Linked DNA regions of Homo sapiens: region 2 is linked to region 1. Evidence: fine-mapped QTL for protein levels in blood plasma. A gene starts in region 1. The other region holds a variant in brackets. All regions are shown on one strand. Distances are from middle to middle.

Region 1 (9,778 bases):
ATCATCACTGGTTTGACTTAATCCAGCTCCAACTCCTTTGTCTTGGTCTCCCTTTTTTTTTTTTTTTTTTTTTTCCAGAGATAGGGCCACTCAGGCTGGAGTGCAGTGGTGCCATCATAGCTCACTGCAGCCTCAACCTCCCAGGCTCAAGCAATCCTCCTGCCTCACCTTCCCAAGTAGCTGGGACTAGAGGCACGAGCCACCGTGCCTGGCTAAGTTTTGTATTTTTTTTCTTTTTAAGAGTCGGGGTCTTGTTATGTTGTCCAGTCTGGTCTCAAACTCCTGGCCTCAGGGGATCCTCCCACCTTGGCCTCCCAAAGGGCTGGAATTACAGGGGTGAGCCACTGTGCCCCGCCCCCTCCATGTCTACCTCGTCTCCTCCTCACTTTCCTTTGCCTCTGTCTCTGCAAGACCCCCTCTGCCTTCTCTGTCTCCTTTCTTTTTCTCTCCCCTTTTATCTACTTTGTGAGCATATCCCTCTCTGGCTGTTCTATCCTGCCCCTGTCCCACCCGTCCTTTCTGTCTCCGTGTGTCTGCCTTTGTGTGTCCTCCCGCCCCCGACTCCTGTCCTCCCCAGCCTTCTCTCCCTCTGCACTGCTGACCCTGTGCGGGCAAAGTTGGCCCAGTATCGCATCAGTCGCTGGGCGAAGATTTTCTCCTCTGCCGTGTAGTTTCGAGAGGGGTCCAGGGGGATCCCAAAGATGAACTCGATCTCGTAGCCGTGGGGCACCCCCATCCACAGGGGCCAGGAGAGCGTGGAAGCACGGTGTTCAAAGACGTAGGCGTAGACCCGGGCACCCTGGGCAGCCAGTCGCCCAGCCAGCTGGGCCACGGGGCACACGACATTGTGGTCGCCCACCACATCGCTCAGGGCCTCCCTCAGGCGTGCCGGGTCCTCGGGATGCAGCCAGTCTGTGTAATGCAGGACCACAGCCTCGGCTGCCAGGTCACTTACCTGGGGAACCCCGACCCGCACCCCGGCCAGGAACTCGGCCCGGCTGATGAGAGACTCGTTGTCTTTGCTGAAGCCTGGGGCCCCGTAAACCAGAAAATACGAGCCCTCATCCTTCACCACACCCACCAGCACCTGGGGGTGAGGGAGAGGGGGGTGGGATGGAGCGACAGGCACAGACAGACAAGTAGACAGAAACAGATGGACAGACAAAGAGCCAGAGAGATGAACAGTTACAGACCCGGAACCATGGACAGAGAGAGGACGAGATCAGGGGAGGGATGCAGAGAAAGAGAAAATAGACCCATGGTGGCTTTCCTGTCTGCCCTGCTGACCACCCTGGGATCTGAGCCCTCAGGGAGGACTTCTGGGACTTCTGGGAATGGGCCTGGAGAAGCCCTCATGCCTGGGTCCCTGCAGGGAGGGGAGGGACCGTTGGGACCCAGAGGAGCCAGCTTCACGCCAGCTAGCCACTAGTTACCTGCAGGCCGTGGAAGTCTCCCGCGTTGATGAGGGCCTCTGGGGTGTCACTGAGGAAGTCTCCATCTACCACAGGCACGAAGGAGAACCGGAAGACGCTTTCTTGAGGCAGCACGTGCCATTCGTGGTTCACCAGGACCTGCGCTGGTCGTGTCCGAAGGCAGGCTACCAGCTCTGTGTCATTCCCACCAGTGCCGCCTGGAGGACAGCCCACAAGGTGGGCCAGCTGCGTGGCCCTGCGACGGGCCTCTCCCATGCCCACCGTGGCCCAGGGTCCATTGGGGGCACCGCTCTGCAGCACGGCCCTGTGGAACAGGCCCCGGCTGGGCGGGGACAGCAGGTGCATGCCCACCGAGGCGGCTCCCGCGCTCTCCCCAAACAGCGTCACTGATGTCGGGTCACCCCCGAAGGCTGCCACGTTCTCCTGCACCCACTGCAGGGCCAGCCTCTGATCCAGGAGACCCACATTGCCCGGGGCCTCTCGGCTCCCCGGCAGGGCCAGGAAGCCAAAGGCTCCCACCCGGTAGTTCATGGACACCAGCACAGTCCTCTCGGCCTGTACCAAGAAGCGGCCATCGTACACGTCCAAGGAGGAGGCCCCACTGTAGAAGCCACCCCCATAGATCCAGACGAGGACAGGGGTGGGGGATGTAGGCCGGGGGTATGGTGTCCACACGTTGAGGTACAGGCAGTCCTCGCTCAGCTCACGGTTGGGGTTCCACATCTCGGTGCCCTCAAAACCTGGGTATAGGGTGTCCACATATTGGTAGCAGACACTCTGGAAGGTTGTAGCGTCTACCACCCCTGACCAAGGCTGCTTGGGCTCCGGTGGCAGAAAGCGACGGGGTCCCATGGGTGGCTCCGCAAAGGGGATGCCCAGGAAAGCAGAGACAGGGCCCCCGGGGGTCTTCAGGCGAATGCCCCGCAGCCGGCCCCCACGCACCGTCACCAGCAGCTCTGCATCCTCCCGGCCCTCAGCCCCCACTCCTCCACCCAGGAGCCAGAGGAGGAGGAGAAGGAGTGGGGAAGCCAGGGAAGGCGTGTGCAGCAGACACTGCGGGGGCCTCATGGCTGCAGGGCAGGCGGCGTCTGCTGGGAGAAAGAAAGGGAAAGGGTGAAGGGTCGGTCGAGAAGCCAGGAGGGAGGAGATTAGGGCACTGTCGGCCCAAGGGTTATCGCTCAGCTGCAGAGGAGGTGGGGCAGGTTGGCAAAGATGAGGGGAGAGAGGGAGGGAGGGAAGGAGACAGGCAGAGACAAGGACACAGGCCAGCGGGCAGGAGGGGAAAGAGATCAGGCAGACACCCATATCCAGACAAATGCAGGGAACAGAGAGGAGCACCCTCTCTGCTCCGCAGGGGTCCACTGCCCTCACCTCTTCCCGGAACTGGGCCGGGCCCAGCTCGTGCAGTGAGGGCACCAGAAGCCTCAGTCCACGAACAGGCCACCCGACAGGGCGCGGCCTCACGGACGGGCAGCGCCGCTGGGGGAGCTTGCGGCGGCCTGAAGCGCAGCCCCGCTCTCCTGGGTCGGCCAGACCCGGGGCCCTGGGGGGCGGTGGGCTGGGCATTCAGGGTGTGGAAGCCTCAGGTCCCGGGGTCCCCCAAATCCTGCCTAGTCCACTCCCCACCCAACCCTGCCCCTTCTCATCCAATGTCTGGCACCGAGCGCTGATGCCCGCGGGTTCCCATCAGCTGCGCACGCTCCCAGCCCAGCCCCAGCAAACAGGCTCGCCAGCCCGCGTCCCCCAGGACTCGAGAGCCCCCCATCCGTCTGAAGCTGCCGTGCACGCCGCCGCCGGCGGAGGGCAGTAGAGACCGAGAAAAGGTCGGCGCTCCCCGCCCCGAGCCAGGAGCCGGGAACTTGGGGAGGGGGCCTGGGGGCTCGAGGGCCTTGCAGAGCCGCCTGAAGGGCGAGCCGGGACGCCTGCGTTCCCGGGACTCCGGAGATCCCCGGCTGCAGGGGCGGGGGCGCTATTTTGGGGGCAGCAGCTGCTACGGTTCCGGCATCTCCAGCCAAAGGATCAAAATTCCCCGGGTGGGAACTCCCCCCTCTCCCGCCGGTCACTCCTAGCCCAGCCCCCGCCGCCCTGAGCGGGGGGTGGTGGTGCTGCTGGAGATTAACTAGGAAACCCGAGTGGCGCTAATTATAACTCGGGGCTTCCGCCGAGCCTCCCCTTCCCAAAAAATAGAGATGGAGTCTCCGCGGGAGGGGGCGTCCTGGGCCTCGGAGGGGGCCTCTGCGGGGCGCTGCGCAGGGGCGCTGGCTTGTGGCCCTGGGGATGGGGGTGCCCAGCCCGGCGCCGGGAACCTGCGCAGCTCGGGTACCGCCCCAATTAGGGGGTGTCTTCCAGTGGCCCCGGACTAGGGAGCGATCGGGGAAGGGGTGCTCGGGGGTCCCCGCGGGAATCGGAGCGCAGAGGCGGCGGCCGTTCCCGCGGGCTCGGGCTCCTGCGTGGGCGTCGGTGAGTGTGAGGCGGCCGGGGAAGAGTTCCGGACGAGTGCGGGGCAGCGGAGGGCGGCGCGGGGCAGGCCCGGGGAAGCGGGAGCCGTCCCGTTAGGGGGGCCTGGACCCCTCGGGGAGCGCACGGTGCCCCGGACCCGGGCCTTAAGGAGAGTCCCGGGCGGGGAGGGAGACTCACCTGAGGCGGCCGAGCCGGGCCGGGCCGGGCCGCGCCGGGAGCTGGAGGCGGCCGATGTTCCCCGGCGCAGGCTGAGCCGACTCTGACAGCCGCCGCCTCCGGCCCCCCGCACACACCCCCTCCGGGCCTCACAGCGCCCCCGCCCGCCCCCGCCCACTGTCTCCGCCCCCGCCCCTCCCCGCTCTCCCGGGTGGCCACCTCCCCTCTCTCTCCCTCCCTTGGAGCCGAGACCCGGAGACCCCGGGGCCCAGACGCACTCCAGTGCCAGACGCCGACCGACGACAGAGCGCAGTGACAGACGCGACCCAAAGACCTGCAGCGGCGGAGTAGACACCCACGTGACAGACAGACGGACAGAAGCCCGTGGAGACAGACACGCGCAGACGGACGACCTCATGCAGTGACAGGCACAGACAAACGCAGGGACGACTTTCACAGACGGACGGACACACTTGGACACCCTGTCGGTCTCGCTCGAGGCTGGTGAAGTTAGCGCAAGGCCAAGGGGTCATGCATCCCCGGCCACGACACAGACGGGTGGCATGGGAGGAGAGGCATGTGGGAGTGTGGCAGAGTACCGTCCCCTTAGGGGTCCAGGTGGCACGGGTGCAGAAAAGGTGACGTGGGACACTCCTGGGGATGAAAGGACACCTGTGGGAATGGAGATGTAAAATGGGATCGCTAGTGGAAATGAGGTGGGAGGGCATGGAGACAGGAGACCCCTGGGGGAGGAAGGGGTGACTTGGGACACCTGAGAAGGCAGGACAGCGTGGTAGCACGCGCAAGGCTGCTGGGCGAGGCCGCACTCCGCGGCGGCAGTGGAAACTTCTGGAACCCCCGCGGGTGGGTCTGTGCTGGTTCCCTGACGGGTGACTTCGGACTTTCGTCACCAGGGTCCGGTCGGGGCATGACATCACCAGGCCTAGCATTCATTGGCCACGCGGCTGGCAGGTGGGAGCGGCCTGGCTCGGGCGCCCCCAGCCTGCTCCGAGGGGCCTGACCCGCGCAGATTGCCCCCCGCCCCGCCCTCCAGGAGTTCACCCGTGTGGACAGGGCTGCTGCAGCGGGGTCCCCACGACCGAGGTGCATGCGGCAATACCGCGCGGCGCCTGCTTCCTGGAGGCGGCCGGCTCAGGAGCCCCCGAGACCCCGCGTGGGAGAGCGGCCGGCGCAGGCCAGCGTCGGGCGTGCGTGCGCGCGCGCGGCGGTGCGGGGCGCGGCGTGGGGTGGGCGCGTGCGCACACGCTCGCTCTAACCGCCGCGCGCCCCGCAGCGCCCCGCAGCGCCTCGGGCACGCGGGCGCCGCCGCCAGGGACCGCGGGCACCGGGTTGCGGGGCCTCGCAGGGGTTGAATCCGGAGTCTTGCCAGTCCCTGGGCCGCGCGGTTCCCGGCTCTCCAAGCTGGGCGGGCCCCACGCCCGCTCGCCCCACGGGAACCGGGTCCCGCAGGCACGGTCACCCGCGCTCCGCTCGCTGGAGACGGCCGCCAGGTGGCGCAAAAAGCAGCCACTCGGGCCTCGGAGACTGGGCTGGGTTGGGGGTGTTGGGGAGGTGAACCCCTCGCCATCTGTGCCCACTGTCTCCGGCTTTCCCCGCCCCAATCTCAGGCAACCCCAAATCCCCTGCCTGGACACCGAGGCTCCTTGTATCCGGCCTTCAGCGTTCTGGCCGCACTAGTTGAAGGCTCCTCACTGGCCAGACCATGTGCCCTAGTTGAGATCCCTGAAGAGCAGATGTAAGGGCTGTGCATGGGGGAGGGGACAGGAGGGTGGATGGTGGGTGTTGCTGCGGGGGGAATGAATCTGAGGCAGGTTTCTAAGCGTGGTAATTATGAATTATTAAAATGATGGGGCCGCGTGTGGCCCCTAGTGCGGTGCCTGTAATCCCAGCACTCTGGGAGGCCGAGACAGGAGGATCGCTTCAGTCCAGGAGTTGGAGACTAGCCTGGGCAACATAGCGAGACTCCCTTCTCCGCAAAAAAATAAAATGATGGAAACAAACTGTGAACGAGTGCTCTGAGGCCTGCCCCAGTCCTGAGGCTTTAGGGATTTTTGGCCCTGCTAGTGATGAAGGCTTGCCCCTGTCACCCTCCAGACGAACTGTGCCACGCAGGTGTCACCTAACCTCTGTCGTCACGAGTTTCTAGGCCTGTACAATGAAGATAGGGAGGGCAGGGATAGTTTATCACCAGGGTTATCATTTCCTGGAACTATCCCTCTTTTCACCTTGAGCTCTCAGCAACCGTTGTCAACACAGGCACCTAACCTGTCAAGCCAGGAGGCGTTTCCCTACATAGTCTAGCATAGTAAACTCCCCACCCTCCACAGCTGTCACTGCAGGGATGTCCTTGATTTTTCCCATTTCTTCTCTCACCATTTCTGTTTATCCAGGAATGAGCCTTGCTTCTACTACCAGTTCTGCCAATTCAGAGAATTTCCCTACCCCTCTTTTATCTCTGTCTCCCACCTTGGAAGGAAGCGCCATTTTTTTTTTTTAGACAGAGTCTCGCTCTGTCGCCCAGGCTAGAGTGTAGAGATGATGCCATCTCAGCTCGCTGCAACCTCTGCCTCCTGGGCTCAAGGATTCTCCTTTCCCAGCCTCCTGAGTAGCTGGGACTAGAGGCGCCTGCCACCACACCTGGCTAATTTTTGTATATTTAGCAGAGGTGGGGTTTCACCATGTTGGCCAGGCTGGTCTCGAACTCCTGACCTCAGGTGATCCTCCTGCCTCAGCCTCCCAAAGTGTTGGGATTACAGGCATGAGCTGCCATGCCTGGCAGGGAACCCCACTTCTATTACAGACCTTGATCCACATCTTCTAACACAAAAGATTCTTATTTCCTCTATTTATTGGTTAATATTCAATTCAGCTGTATGAGACCAAAAACCAAATAATGGCTTTAACAAGATATAATAGAGGCCGGGCATGGTGGCTCATGCCTGTTGTAATCCCAGTATTTTGGGAGGCTGAGGCAGGCAGATCACCTGAGGTTGGGAGTTCAAGACCAGCCTGACCAACATGGAGAAACCCTGTCTCTACTAAAAATACAAAAAAATTAGCTGGGCATGGTGGCCCATGCTTGTAATCCCAGCTACTCAGGAGGCTGAGGCAGGAGAATCGCTTGAACCCAGGAGGTGGAGGGTGCAGTGAGCGGAAATCATGCCATTGTACTCCAGCCTGGGCAACAAGAGCGAAACTCTGTCTCAAAAAAAAAAAAAAATAATAGAAATGTATTTCTTGGGCCAGGTGCAGTGACTGTCGTCCCAGAACTTTGGGAGGACAAGGAGAGAGGATCACTTGAGGCCAGGAGTATGAGGCCAGCATGGCCAATGTGGTGAGACCCTGTCTCTACAAAAAATAAAAATAATTAGCTGGGTGTGGTGGTGCATACTTATAGTTCTAGCTACTTGGGAGGCTGAGGCAGGAGGATCACTTGAGGCCAGGAGTTTGAGACCAGCCTGGGCAACATGGTAAAACCTTGTCTGTACTAAAAATACAAAAATTAGCTTGGTATGGTGGTGCGTGCGTGTACTCCTAGCTACTTGGGAGGCTGAGGCACAAGAATTGCTTGAACCTGGGAGGCGGAGATTGCAGTGGGCCAAGATCTCGCCACTGCACTCCAGCTTGGGTGACAGAGGGAGACTCTGTCTTAAAAAAAAAAAAAAAGAGACCTAGAAATGAGTCTTGCAGGGTTGGCATGGTGCCCTCAATGTCAGGGTCCAGGCTTCTTTACACGGAACCCTGTTGCTCCTTGCACAGTATCTTGTTACTGCACCATCTTCAGCATGTGACTTCTACCGCATGGCATAGAATGGCTGCTGGAACATCAGCCATCACATCTACATTCCAGCCAGCAGGAAGGAGGAGGGGCTGAAGAACAGTATCTCCTATTTATTTATTTATTTGACAGAGTCTCACTCTGTCGCCCCAGGCTGGAGTGCAGTGGCACTCGGCTCACTGCAACCTCCACTTCCCAGGTTCAAGTGATTCTCCCACCTCAGCCTCCTGAGTAGCTGGGATTACAGGTGCGCACCACCATGCCTGGTTAATTTTTTGTATTTTTAGTAGAGATGAGATTGCACCATGTTGGCCAGGCTGGTCTCAAACTCCTGGCCTTAAGTGATCCACCTGCCTCAGCCTCCCAAAGTGCTGGGATTACAGGCCTGAGCAACCATATCCGGCCGAACTCTTCCTTTAATGATGAGCCTTTGCCCAACCCCCCATTAATCGAGATTGTAACCTGGCAGAATTGGGAGCCTGAGGCCACACAAAGGACTTTCCTCCCTCTACCCACCCCTTCCTATGTCCCCTACTTAATGTTGGGCCAGCCTTCCTGCTGGATCCAAGTTACGTCATCCTACACAGGATAGGATGATTTCTCTTTGCGGCTTATCCATCCTTTTTACCCTTTTCTCTCTTGCTAGTTATGAGCATTTCACACATTTTTTATAGCTTGTCTCTACAAAGTCTTACTTTATTTTCACAATTTTGTTATTTATTTAACGAGTATACAGTATTTCCCATGCAATTCGCCAAATAACCTTTTGCTTAGTTTAGCCTCTTTTCTGGCCGGGGGTAGAGTGGAGTGCGGGTGGCATACCCTTGTGCTCAGAATTTTTTTTTTTTTGGTCTCATTCTGTCACCCGGGGTTGGAGTGAAATGGTGTGATCATATCTCATTGCAGCCTTGAAGTCCTGGGCTCAAGCAGTAACCCTCCTTCAGCCTTCTGAATAGCTGGGACCACAGGTGGCACCACCATGCCCAGCTAATTTTTAAATATTTTATTAATTTGTAGAGACGGGGTCTTGCTATGTTGCCCAGGCTGGTCTTGAACTCCTGGGCTCAAGCGATCCTCCCACCTCTGCCTCCCAAAGTGCTGGGATTATAGGTGTGAGCCACTGCGCCCGGCCATCAGAACTGATCAGTACTTTTCTTGGCATTCCTTTTTGCCCATGAACTTGAGTGCTTCTGAAAGGAGTGAAATATGCAATTTAATTCACCAGTAGTACATTGAACGCCATGTTGCCACTCATCTTCCCTGGTATGACCTGACATCCATCTGACATGGTCCCTGGCATGCTGGTCCAACTGGCTGTCAGTTCCTGGTCTCACAGGTTCCAGCCAACCCTGACTCGGTTTTCAGTTTAAATGTTAGCAGTGCATCTTGAATGGCTTCTTGGAAATAGCTGGTGAGGTTACACTAGGTGCTATAGATGTTTGACACCCAGAGAGCTCCTGGTCACTCCTGGCTGCCCTGCAGGTATCAAGTGGCCAAGTGAGAGCTGTGCCGGAAGCACAGGTTCCATAGATGACCTTGGCTGGGGTTTCCAGGGACACTGAGTATTTAACACAAGATTGGTGCAGAAGTGAGGAGGACTGGTTTGGGATTCTGCCACCTGGCTTGGGGACAGTGCAGGCTGGCTGTGAGGTTGGCCCAGTGGTCAGCTGGATCCCTTAAATGTCCACAACACTGGGGACAACAGGGTGGAGTGGAAGAGTAGCCCAGATCCAATGTTGCTTTCACAGTAGCATGTATGGGGAAGAAGAGCTTGTTTGCCAGCCGCTTCCTGAATGCTTTGCTAAATATCATTTCATTTAATTCTCACTTGTAGCATTCAAATGGGGTAGGCTGTATTTTCTTTGCCTTTTTTTTTTTTTTTTTTAGACGAAGTCTCGCTTTTGTTGCCCAGGCTGGAGTGCAATGGCAT
Region 2 (9,896 bases), 41 kb after region 1:
AGCACTTTGGGAGGCCGAGGCAGGCAGATCATGAGGTCAGGAGTTTGAGACCAGCCTGGCCAACGTGGTGAAACCCCGTCTCTACTAAAATACAAAAAAATTAGCCGGGGTTGGTGGTGCATGCCTGTAGTCCCAGCTACTTGGGAGGCTGAGGCAGGAGAATCACTTGAATCTGGGAGGTAGAGGCTCACCATCTACCCGGCTAATTTTTTTGTATTTTTAGTAGAGACGGGGTTTCACCACGTTGGCCAGGCTGGTCTCGAACTCCTGACCTCATGATCCGCATCCCCCCTCCCCCCGCGGCCTTCGAAAGTGCTGGGATTACAGGCGTGAGCCACCGCACCCAGCTCAATGGCTGAACTTTTAGCTTCATTTTAGCAGAGTTCAGACACCCCCATAATCCTAATCTTGTGAGTTGTCATTAGTTTTACAAAGGCAGTTTGGTCCCAGAACAAACAGGTGGTAGTTTTGGGAAGGGCTATTATCATCCTTGCTTTAAGTTTAAACCATAAATTAAATTCCTCCCCAAGTTAACCTAGCCTATGCCCAGGAATGAACAAGGACAGTTTAGAGGCTAGAAGCAAGAAGAAGTCAGCTAGATTACATTATTTTACTGCCATCATTTTCCTGTGTCGGGTCTTACTCACTGTCATAATTTCTTTTTTCTTTTTTTTTAAAGACAGAGTCCTACTCTGTCACCCAGGCTGGAGTACAGTGGGGTGATCTCGGCTCACTGCAACCTCTACCTCCCAGATTCGAGTGATTCTCCTGTCTCAGCCTCCTGAGTAGCTGGGATTACAGGCACCTGCCACCATGTCCGGCTAAGTTTTAGTAGAGACGGGTTTTGCCATGTTGGCCAGGCTGGTCTCGAACTCCTGACCTCAAGCACTCCACCTACCTTGGCCTCCCAAAGTGCTGGGATTACAGGTGTGAGCCACTGCACCCGGCCTCTGTCATAATTTTTGCAAAGGCGGTTTCAGTGGGGTCTCCAAACCACTCTCCTTGGCCAGGTTACCAGTTTCCCACCTGGGCACAGTGGGTTAGGGTCCTGGGGGTTGGTCCTCCCAACTCCAGTGTCTTCTGGTACCATCCTCCCTCCTTGCAGCAAATATAGTGTCTGTGGTCCAACTCTGGAGTTACTGTGGCCAGAGGCTCTTAGTTACCAGATTAACTGTCCCTTCCCCACTCCTTTCCCCACCAACCATCTGCTTCTGTACCAGCTACCTGGCTAGGAGGATTTCTACCTCCCCCTACCTAGGGGTCTGGCCCTGTGGTAAGACTGCACCCACCCGTGAAGCCACGCCCCATCCAGGAAACCACACCCACTCAAGAAGCCCTGCCCACCCAAGAAGCCCCACCTGCCAGCAAGCCACAGCCATCCAAGAAACCCCACCCATCCAGGGAGCCCTGCCCAGCCCATCAGATGGTCCCACTCACCCATGAAAGCCACTGCCGAGGTATTCACAGCCCTGCTGCTATTCGGCCTGCCCATCAGGAGCCAGTCCACAGAACTCCATTAACCTTGCTGTCAAAACAGGGTTTCCTGGCTGGGGGGCTTACTCCTGTAATCCCAGCACTTTGGGAGGCTGAGGCGGGTGGATCATTTGAGGTCAGGAGAATAAGACTAACCTGGCCAACATGGGGAAACCTCGGGAGTTCTAGACCAGCCTGACCAACATGGTGAAACCCCACCTCTACTAAAAATACAAAATTAGCTTGGCATGGTGGCATGGGCCTCTGATCCCAGCTACTCAGGAGGCTGAGGCAGGAGAATGGCTTGAACCTGGGAGACTGAGGTTGCAGTGAGCCAAGATGAAGCCACTGCACTCCAGCCTGGGTGACAGAGTGAGACTCTGTCTCACAAAAACAAAAACAAAACAAACAGGGTTTCTTTTTATAGACAATCTCCAAAGGCAATTTCATGATGATTAGATTCAAACAGGATGGCACCTAGGAATTGTCCAATCTTCAACATTATCTAGAAAGTTTCTCCCAAATGATGCTTTAGTTTAGAATACTGTACCCCTCTCTCTCTCTGCATTTTCACAATCTGAGGTTTTTCTTGTTTGATCGTTTATTTTATTTTATTTTACTATTCTATTTTTTGCACCAGAACGCCCATGGAAACACATGCAGTCCCGTGACCTCACGCTGGATTTTTCAGTTTCTAGAAATTAAATCAGCAAATTTGGAGTCCAAAGAAATGGGTTGCTAGGTGTGGTGGCACACCCCTGTAATCCCAGCACTTTGGGAGGCTGAGGCAGGTGGATCACTTGAGGTCAGCAGTTTGAGACCAGCCTGGCCAACATGGCAAAACCCTGTCTCTACTGAAAACATAAAAATTAGCTGGGCATGGTGGTGCACGCGTGTATTCCCAGCTACTCGGGAGGCTGAGGCAGGGAAATTGCTTGAACCTAGGAGGTGGATGTTGCAGTGAGCCAAGGTCACGCCACTGCATGCCGGCTTGGGAGACATAGCGAAACTCCATCTCAGAAAAAAGAAAAAAAAAGAAATAGGTTGTTTAAAACTTGACAATAATAGAATTTTACATGAGAACTATGGGGGTGTCTAGCATGTTTCCCTTGAGTGTAGGCTGTCAGCATTGGTGAAGTGATCGCTTTGGGTTGCTGATTGAGAAGCTACTTGTTCTCTCAGAATGGAAGAATATTCAGGAGACCGGGTCTGTGGTCTGTTAGAAACCAGGTTTCAGAGCAGGAGGTGAACGATGGGTGAGCGAGTGAAGCTTCATCTATATTTACAGTGGCTCCTCAACACTATTATTACTGCCTGAGCTCCGCCTCCTGTCAGATCAGCTGTGGCATTAGATTCTCATAGGAGTGCCAACTCTATTGTGAACTGTGCATGAGTGACCTAGGTTGTGTGCTCCTTATGAAAAATCTAATGCCTGATGATCTGTCACTGTCTCTCATCACTCCCCTGTTGTGACCATCTAATTACAGGAAGGCAAACTCAGGGCTCCCACTGATTCTACATTATGGTAAGTTGCATAATTATTTCATTATATATTACGACATAATAATAGAAATAGGCTGGGTGTGGTGGCTCACGACTGTAATCCCAGCACTTTGGGAGGTGGAGGTGGGCAGATCACCTGAGGTCAGGAGTTTGAGACTGCCCTGGCCAACATGGTGAAACACTGTCTCTACAAAAAATACAAAAATTAGCTGGGGGTGGTGGTGGGCACCTACAATTCCAGCTACTTGGGAGGTTGAGGCAGGAGAATCTCTTGAACCCGGGAGATGGAGGTTGCAGTGAGCCGAGATCGTGCCACTGCACTCTAGCCTGGGTGACAGAGTGACACTCCATCTCAAATAACAATAATAATAATAATAGAAATAAAGTGCACAATGAATGTAATGTGCTTGAACCATCCCAAACCCGTCCCCCTCGACCCTCCTGGTCCATGGAACAATTGTCTTCCATGAAACCAGTCCTTGGTGCCAAAAAGTTTGGGGACTGCTGGTCTGGACAACCTGGGCTTCACAATTTTTAATTTGTTTGTAGGCTGTTACTGTAACAGGCCGAGAGGTGCTTGTAAACTTCAGAGGTTGTTTACCAGAGAGCCAAAGAAGGTGTTTAGAAATGTGTGTGACATGCTATAACCCAGCTCCGGCCATAGACCCTGTTCCGATGAAGACAATGTTCTATCTCTAATGATCCAATATGGCAGACAGCAGCCATATGTGGCATTGTACTCTTAAAATATGGATAATGCAACTGAAGAACTAATTTTCTTTTTCTCTTTCTTCTTTCTTTCTTTCTTTCTTTTTTTCTGTTCTTTCTCTCTTTCTTTCTCTCTCTCTTTCTCTCTTTCTCTCTTTTTTTCTTTCTTTCAAGACAGGGTCTCACTCTGTCACCCAGGCTAAAGTGCAGTGGCACGATCCGGGCTTACTGCAACCTCCACCTCCCGGGTTCAAGTGATTCTCCTGCCTCAGCCTCCCGAGCAGCTGGGATTACAGGCGCCTGCCACCACACCAGGCTAATTTTTGTATTTTTAGCAGAGACAGGGTTTCACCACAGTGGCCAGGCTGGTCTCGAACTCCTGACCTCCGCCCGCCTCGGCCTCCCAAAGTGCTGGGATTACAGGCGTGAGCCACCACGCCTGGCCAGCCAACTTCTATTAATATTTTAGAAAAAGGGGATGCAAGTGCAGGTTTGTTACAAAGGTATATGATGTGATGCTGAGTTTTGGGGTATGAATGAATATGTCACCAAGGTAGTGAGCATAGTATCCAGTAGATCATTTTTTCAGCCCTTGCCCTGCTCCTTCTCTTCTACCTCTAATAGTCCCTGTGTCTATTGTTTTTATTTTTATGTCCATGTGCACCCAATATTTAGCTCCCACTTATAAGTGAGAATAAGCGTTATTTGGTTTTTTGTTTCTGCGTTAGTTAGCTCAGACTAGTGGTTTCCAGCTGTATCCCCGTTGCTGCAATGGACATGATTTTGTTCTTTTTTATGGCTGTGTAGTAATCCATGGTGTATGTATACTGTATTTTTCACCATAGATGGGCATCTAGGTTGATTCCATGTCTTTTCTATTGTGAATACTGTTGTGCCATGGGTGCAGGTGTCCTTTTGGTAGAACAATTTATTTTTTGGGGGGATAGTTACCCAGTAGTGGGGTTGCTGGGTTGGTTGGTACTTCGACTCATAGTTCTTTGAGAAATATCCGAACTGCTCTTCGTAATGGCTGAACAATTTACATTCTGACCAACAGTGAATGAGTGTTCCCTTTTCTCCACAGCCTTGCTGCCATCTGTTTTTTTTTTTTTAAATATATGAGGAAAGTCTTGCTCTGCCACCCAGGCTGGAGTGGAGTGGCATGATCATGGCTCACTGCAGTCTCAGACTCCTGGGCTCAAGCAATCCTCCTGCCTCAGCTTCCTTAGTAGCTGTGACTATAGGCACACACTACACCAACACACACAGATAATTTAAA[AT/A]TTTTTTTTTTTTGGTAGAGATGAGGTCTCACTATGTTGCCCAGGCCGGTCTCCAACTTCTGACCTCAAGGGATCCTCTAGCCTCTGCCTCCCAAAGTGCTGAGATTTCAGGCATGAGCCACTATACCTGGTCTTTTTTTTTGACTTTTTTTTTTTTTTTTTTTTTTGAGGTGGAGTCGCACTCTGTCGCCCAGGCTGGAGTGCAGTGGGGCCATCTCAGCTCACTGCAACCTCTGCTTCCCGGGTTCAAGTGATTCTCCTGACTCAGCCTTCCGGGTAGCCAGGATTACAGGTGTGTGCCACCATGCCCGACTAATTTTTTTGTGTTTTTAGTAGAGACGGGGGCCAGGCTGGTCTCAAACTCCTGACCTCGAGTGATCTGCCAGCGTCAGCCTCCCAAAGTGCTGGGATTATGGGTGTCAGCCACCATGCCCGACCTTTCTTGACTTTTTAACAAAAGCCCTGATAAATGTAGTTATACCCTGACTTTGCCTCACTATAGGCCCCTGTGCCCACAAACTTCCTATGGTCACTTTCCTAATATCTAAGTGTAAAATTGAGATTAATATCCTCACCACCCTGCAGAATTCCCACACTGACTTCCTAACCTATAGAATAAGAAATGTTAGGATGAGACCAGTGGATGGCTCTTGTCAAAATAGTAAACCAAAAGCAATTCTGCACTGCTGCATTTAATCACAGTGATTTTTTTTTTTTAAAACAGTGTCTCACTATGTTGCCCAGGCTGGTCTTGAACTCCTGGGCTCAAGTGATCCTCCCGTCTCCCAAAGTGTTAGGATTACAAGTGTGAGCCACTGTGCCCAGCTGAAAGATTCGTCTTGACATAACAAAGAATCGCCCTCCAAAACCTATTAATGATTGGCCGGGTATGGTGGCTCACACCTGTAATCCCAGCACTTTTGGAGGCCGAGGTGGGCAGATCACCAGGTCAGGAGATCGAGACCATCCTGGACAACATGGTGAAACCCCATCTCTACTAAAAATACCAAAATTAGCTGGGTGTGGTGGCATGTACCTGTAATCCCAGCTACTTGGGAGGCTGAGGAAGGAGAATCACTTGAATCTGGGAGGCAGAGGTTGCAGTGAGGTGAGATTGTGCCACTGCACTGCAGGCTGGTGACAGAGCGAGACTCCGTTTCAAAATAAACAAATAAACATATAAAAAAAACCTATTAATGACCTTAGCTTTATAGATGTACTTAGTGCCATGGTCTGAATGTTTGTGGCTCCCCGAAATCCATATATGTTGCCATCTTAACCCCCAAGGTGATGATATCAGGAGGTGGGGCCTTTAGGAGGTGTTTTAGTCTGTTCTCACATTGTTATAAAGAAATAACTGACACTTCGGGAGTCCGAGGTGGGTGAATCACTTGAGGCCAGAAGTTCGAGACCAGCCTGGCAAACATGGTGAAACCCCTCTCTACTAAAAAATGCAAAAATTAGCTGGCAGTGGTGACACACACCTGTAATCCCAGCTACTCGGGAGGCTGAGGCAGGAGAATCACTTGAACCCGGGAGGTGGAGGTTGCAGTGAGCCAAGATCGCACCACTGCACTCCAGCCTGGATGACAGAGCAAGACTCTGTCTCAAAAAAAAAAAAAAAAAAAAAGAAGGAACTGAGACTGGGTCATATATATGTTTAATTGGCTTAGGGTTCTGCAGGCCATGCAGGAAGCATGGCTGGGGAGGCCTCAGGGAGCTTTTACTCATGGCAGAAGGCAAAGCCTGAGCAGGTGTCTTCACACAGCCAGAGCAGGAGGAAGAGAGAGAGTGGGGAGGTGCCACACACTTTTAAACAACCAGAGCTCATGAAAACTCTACCACAAGAATAGCACCAAGGGGATGGTGTTAAACCATTTATGAAGGATTCACCTCCATGATCCAATCACCTCTCACCAGGCCCCACCTCCAGCACTGGGGATTACATTTTAACATGAGATTTGGGTGGGGACACAGACCCAAACCATATCAGGAGGTGATTAGGCCATGGTGGTGGAGCCCTCATGAATGGGATTAGTGCCCTTATGAAAGAGACCCAGAGGCCAGATAAGGTCATACCCATAATCCCAGCACTTCGGGAGGCTGAGGTAGGTGGATCACTTGAGGTCAGGAGTTCGAGACCAGCCTGGCCAACATGGTGAAATACATCTCTACTAAAAGTACAAAAACTAGCAGGGCATGGTGGCACATGACTGTAGTCCCAGCTACTTGGGAGGCTGAGGCAGGAGAATCATTGATCCTGGGAGGAAGAGGTCGCAGTGAGCCCCAAGCCTGCCTGGGTGACACAGTGAGACTCTGTCTCAGGAAAAAAAAAAAAAAAAAAAAAAAAAGGAGACCTAGAAAGACCCTTGCCCTTCTACCATGTGAAGACACAGAAAGAAGGAACTGTCTATAAGCCAGAAAGCAGGATCTCACTAGACACAAAATCTGCCTTGATCTTGGACTTCCCAGCCTCTAGAACTATGAGAATAAATGTCTGTTGTTTATAAACTACCCAGTTTACAGTATTTTGTTGCAGCAGCCTGAACAGACTAAGATACTTTGCTGATTTTTTTTTTCTTTTTTGTAGCTGTCCTTTAATAGGTTGAGGAAGTTCCTTCTATTTACTAGTTTTCGGAGAGCTTTTATCAGTAATGGACGTCAGATTTTGTCAAATGCTTTTCCTGCATCTATGGAAATGATCATGTGGTTTCTCATCTTTAGACTGTTGACATAAGAAATTACATTGATTCATTTTCAAATGTTTAACCAGCTTTGTATCCCTGGGATTAACCCCACTTGGTCATGATGCATTATTTTTATGTATTGCTATGTTTTATTTCATAATATTTCCTTGAGGATTTTTGTGTCTATATTCATTAGGGCTATCGGTCTAGTTTTCTTGTAATGTATTTGTCTTGGTTTGGTATCAGAATAATGCTGGGCTCATAAACAAAGTTGGGAAGTGTTCCATTTTCTGAAAGAGTTTGTGTACAGTTGGTATGATTTCTTCCTTAAGTGTTTGCTGGAATTCAATAGTAAAGCAATTCAGTCATATTAGCAAGCTTAGATCTTTCTATAGGAAAGACCGTGGTATGATTTTTTTTATTATACTTTAAATTCTAGGATACATGTGCACAACATGAAGGTTTGTTACATAGGTATACATGTGCCATGCTGGTTTGCTGCACCCATCAACTCGTCATTTACATTAGGTATTTCTCCTAATGCCATCCCTCCCCCAGCCCGCCAGCCCCCAACAAAGTCCAGTGTGCGATGTTCCTGCCCTGTGACCAAGTGTTCTCATTGTTCAATTCCCACCTATGAGTGGGAACATGCAGTGTTTGGCTTTCTGTCCTTGCGATAGTTTGCTAAGAATGATGGTTTCCAGCTTCATCCATGTCCCTGCAAAGGACATGAACTCATCCTTTTTTATGGCTGCATAGTATTCCATGGTATATATGTGCCACATTTTCTTGTCTTTTTATTCATTTTCTTTTTTTGAGATGGAGTCTTGCTCTGTCACCCAGGCTAGAGTGCAGTGGTGCAATCTCGGCTCACTGCCAGCTCTGCCTCCCGGGCTCATGCCATTCTCCTGCCTCAGCCTCCTGAGTAGCTGGGACTACAGGCGCCTGCCATCACGTCTGGCTAATTTTTTGTATTTTTAGTAGAGATGGGGTTTCACCACGTTAGCCAGGATGTTCTTGATCTCCTGACCTTGTGATCCACCCTCTTCAGCTTCCCAAAGTGCTGGGATGACAGGCGTGAGCCACCACATACTTTTAAATAAAACGTACACCTCAATAAATTCACTAAGACCAATCATGCTATAGATATCTGGGCTTGCAATTCAAGAATAATATCATTAAAATAAAAGTTTTAAGCACACACTTTAAGATCACCAATGGTGGAAAACCAGTTTTAACAATAATATATTTATTTTTTATTTTATTTATTTATTTTTTGAGATAGAGTCTTCCTCCGTTTCCCAGGCTGAAGTGCAATGGCACAATCTCAGCTCACTGCAACCTCTGCCTCCTGGGTTCAAGCAATTCTTCTGCCTCAGCCTCCCAAGTAGCTGGGATTACAGGTGTGAGCCACTACACCTAGCTAATTTTTTTTTTGTATTTTTAGTAGAGACCGCGTTTCGCCATGTTGGCCAGGCTGGTCTTGAACTCCTGACTTCAAGTGATCCACTCACCTTGGCCTCCTAAAGTGCTGGGATTACAGGCATGAGTCACTGCACCTGGCCTAAAAATAATGTATTTATTATTATTTTATTTTTTAAAACACAGAGACGGCTGGGTGCAGTGGCTCACTCCTGTAATCCCAGCACTTTGGGAGGCTGAGGCAGTTGGGTCACCTGAGGTCAGGAGTTCAAGACCAGCCAGGCCAACATGGTTTAAAATACAAAAATTAGCAGGTCGTGGTGGCATGGGCCTGTAATCTCAGCTACTCGGGAGGCTGAGGCAGGAGAATTGATGGAACCTGGGAAGCGGAGGCTGCAGTGAGCTGAGATTACACCACTGCACTCCAGCCTGGGCGGCAGAGTGAGACTCCATCTCAAAAAAAAAAAAAAATTAAAAATAAATAAATAAATAAACTGAGAGTAGCAGTTTACGGTCTCCGCTACTCAGCAAATCCATCTTTTGGTTTCATTGTTTTGTCCCAAAGCTTCAATCAGGCTCTTGGTGACTGTTTACTGTCTGGTGTAAGGAGCAGGCCAGTGGCACCCTTGGTATTTATAGGAGGGCGATAGTTGCCTCCAGATCCACTGAATGTGGCAGGCTAGTGTTCACAGAACTTTCAGATGCACCAGACTCTAGGAAGAAGACAAGAGGAGACAGAAGAAATTAAATTAATCAGAGAAAGGCAAGATCCCATTTCCCTGATTTGATATGACTTCGCTGAACCTCCAGAAAAATCCTCAAG

Which allele goes with the higher level. Alleles are on the strand shown, and positions count from the first base shown. The strength of an association depends on the size of the effect and on how common the allele is.
In carriers of allele AT in region 2, the plasma level of the protein whose gene starts at base 4,157 in region 1 tends to be lower than with A alone (strong association).

The links. PIP is the posterior inclusion probability: the model's chance that the variant is causal. Protein levels are from antibody-based Olink assays in UK Biobank. Linkage for the fine-mapping came from a reference panel and not from the study's own genotypes, which makes the PIPs less certain.
Region 2: its variant is fine-mapped to the plasma level of the ACHE protein (UK Biobank, PIP above 0.99).

What each region holds. Positions count from the first base shown.
Region 1 is chr7:100,891,732-100,901,509 of GRCh38, forward strand. ACHE (acetylcholinesterase (Yt blood group)) reads right to left here and starts at 4,157. Exons shown (of 5, transcript NM_000665.5): 1 at 4,071-4,157; 2 at 1,434-2,521; 3 at 603-1,087. The coding sequence starts at 2,501. RefSeq lists enhancers at 224-963, 964-1,702, 3,974-4,594 and silencers at 3,949-3,998, 4,059-4,208, 5,431-5,510.
Region 2 is chr7:100,932,551-100,942,446 of GRCh38, forward strand. LOC105375431 (a long non-coding RNA gene) reads right to left here. Exons shown (of 3, transcript XR_007060457.1): 3 at 9,509-9,786. Among named protein-coding and RNA genes, the nearest start is that of MUC3A, 12 kb to the right of the region's middle. RefSeq lists an enhancer at 861-1,362. The variant AT/A (reference allele first, on the strand shown) is at 4,964.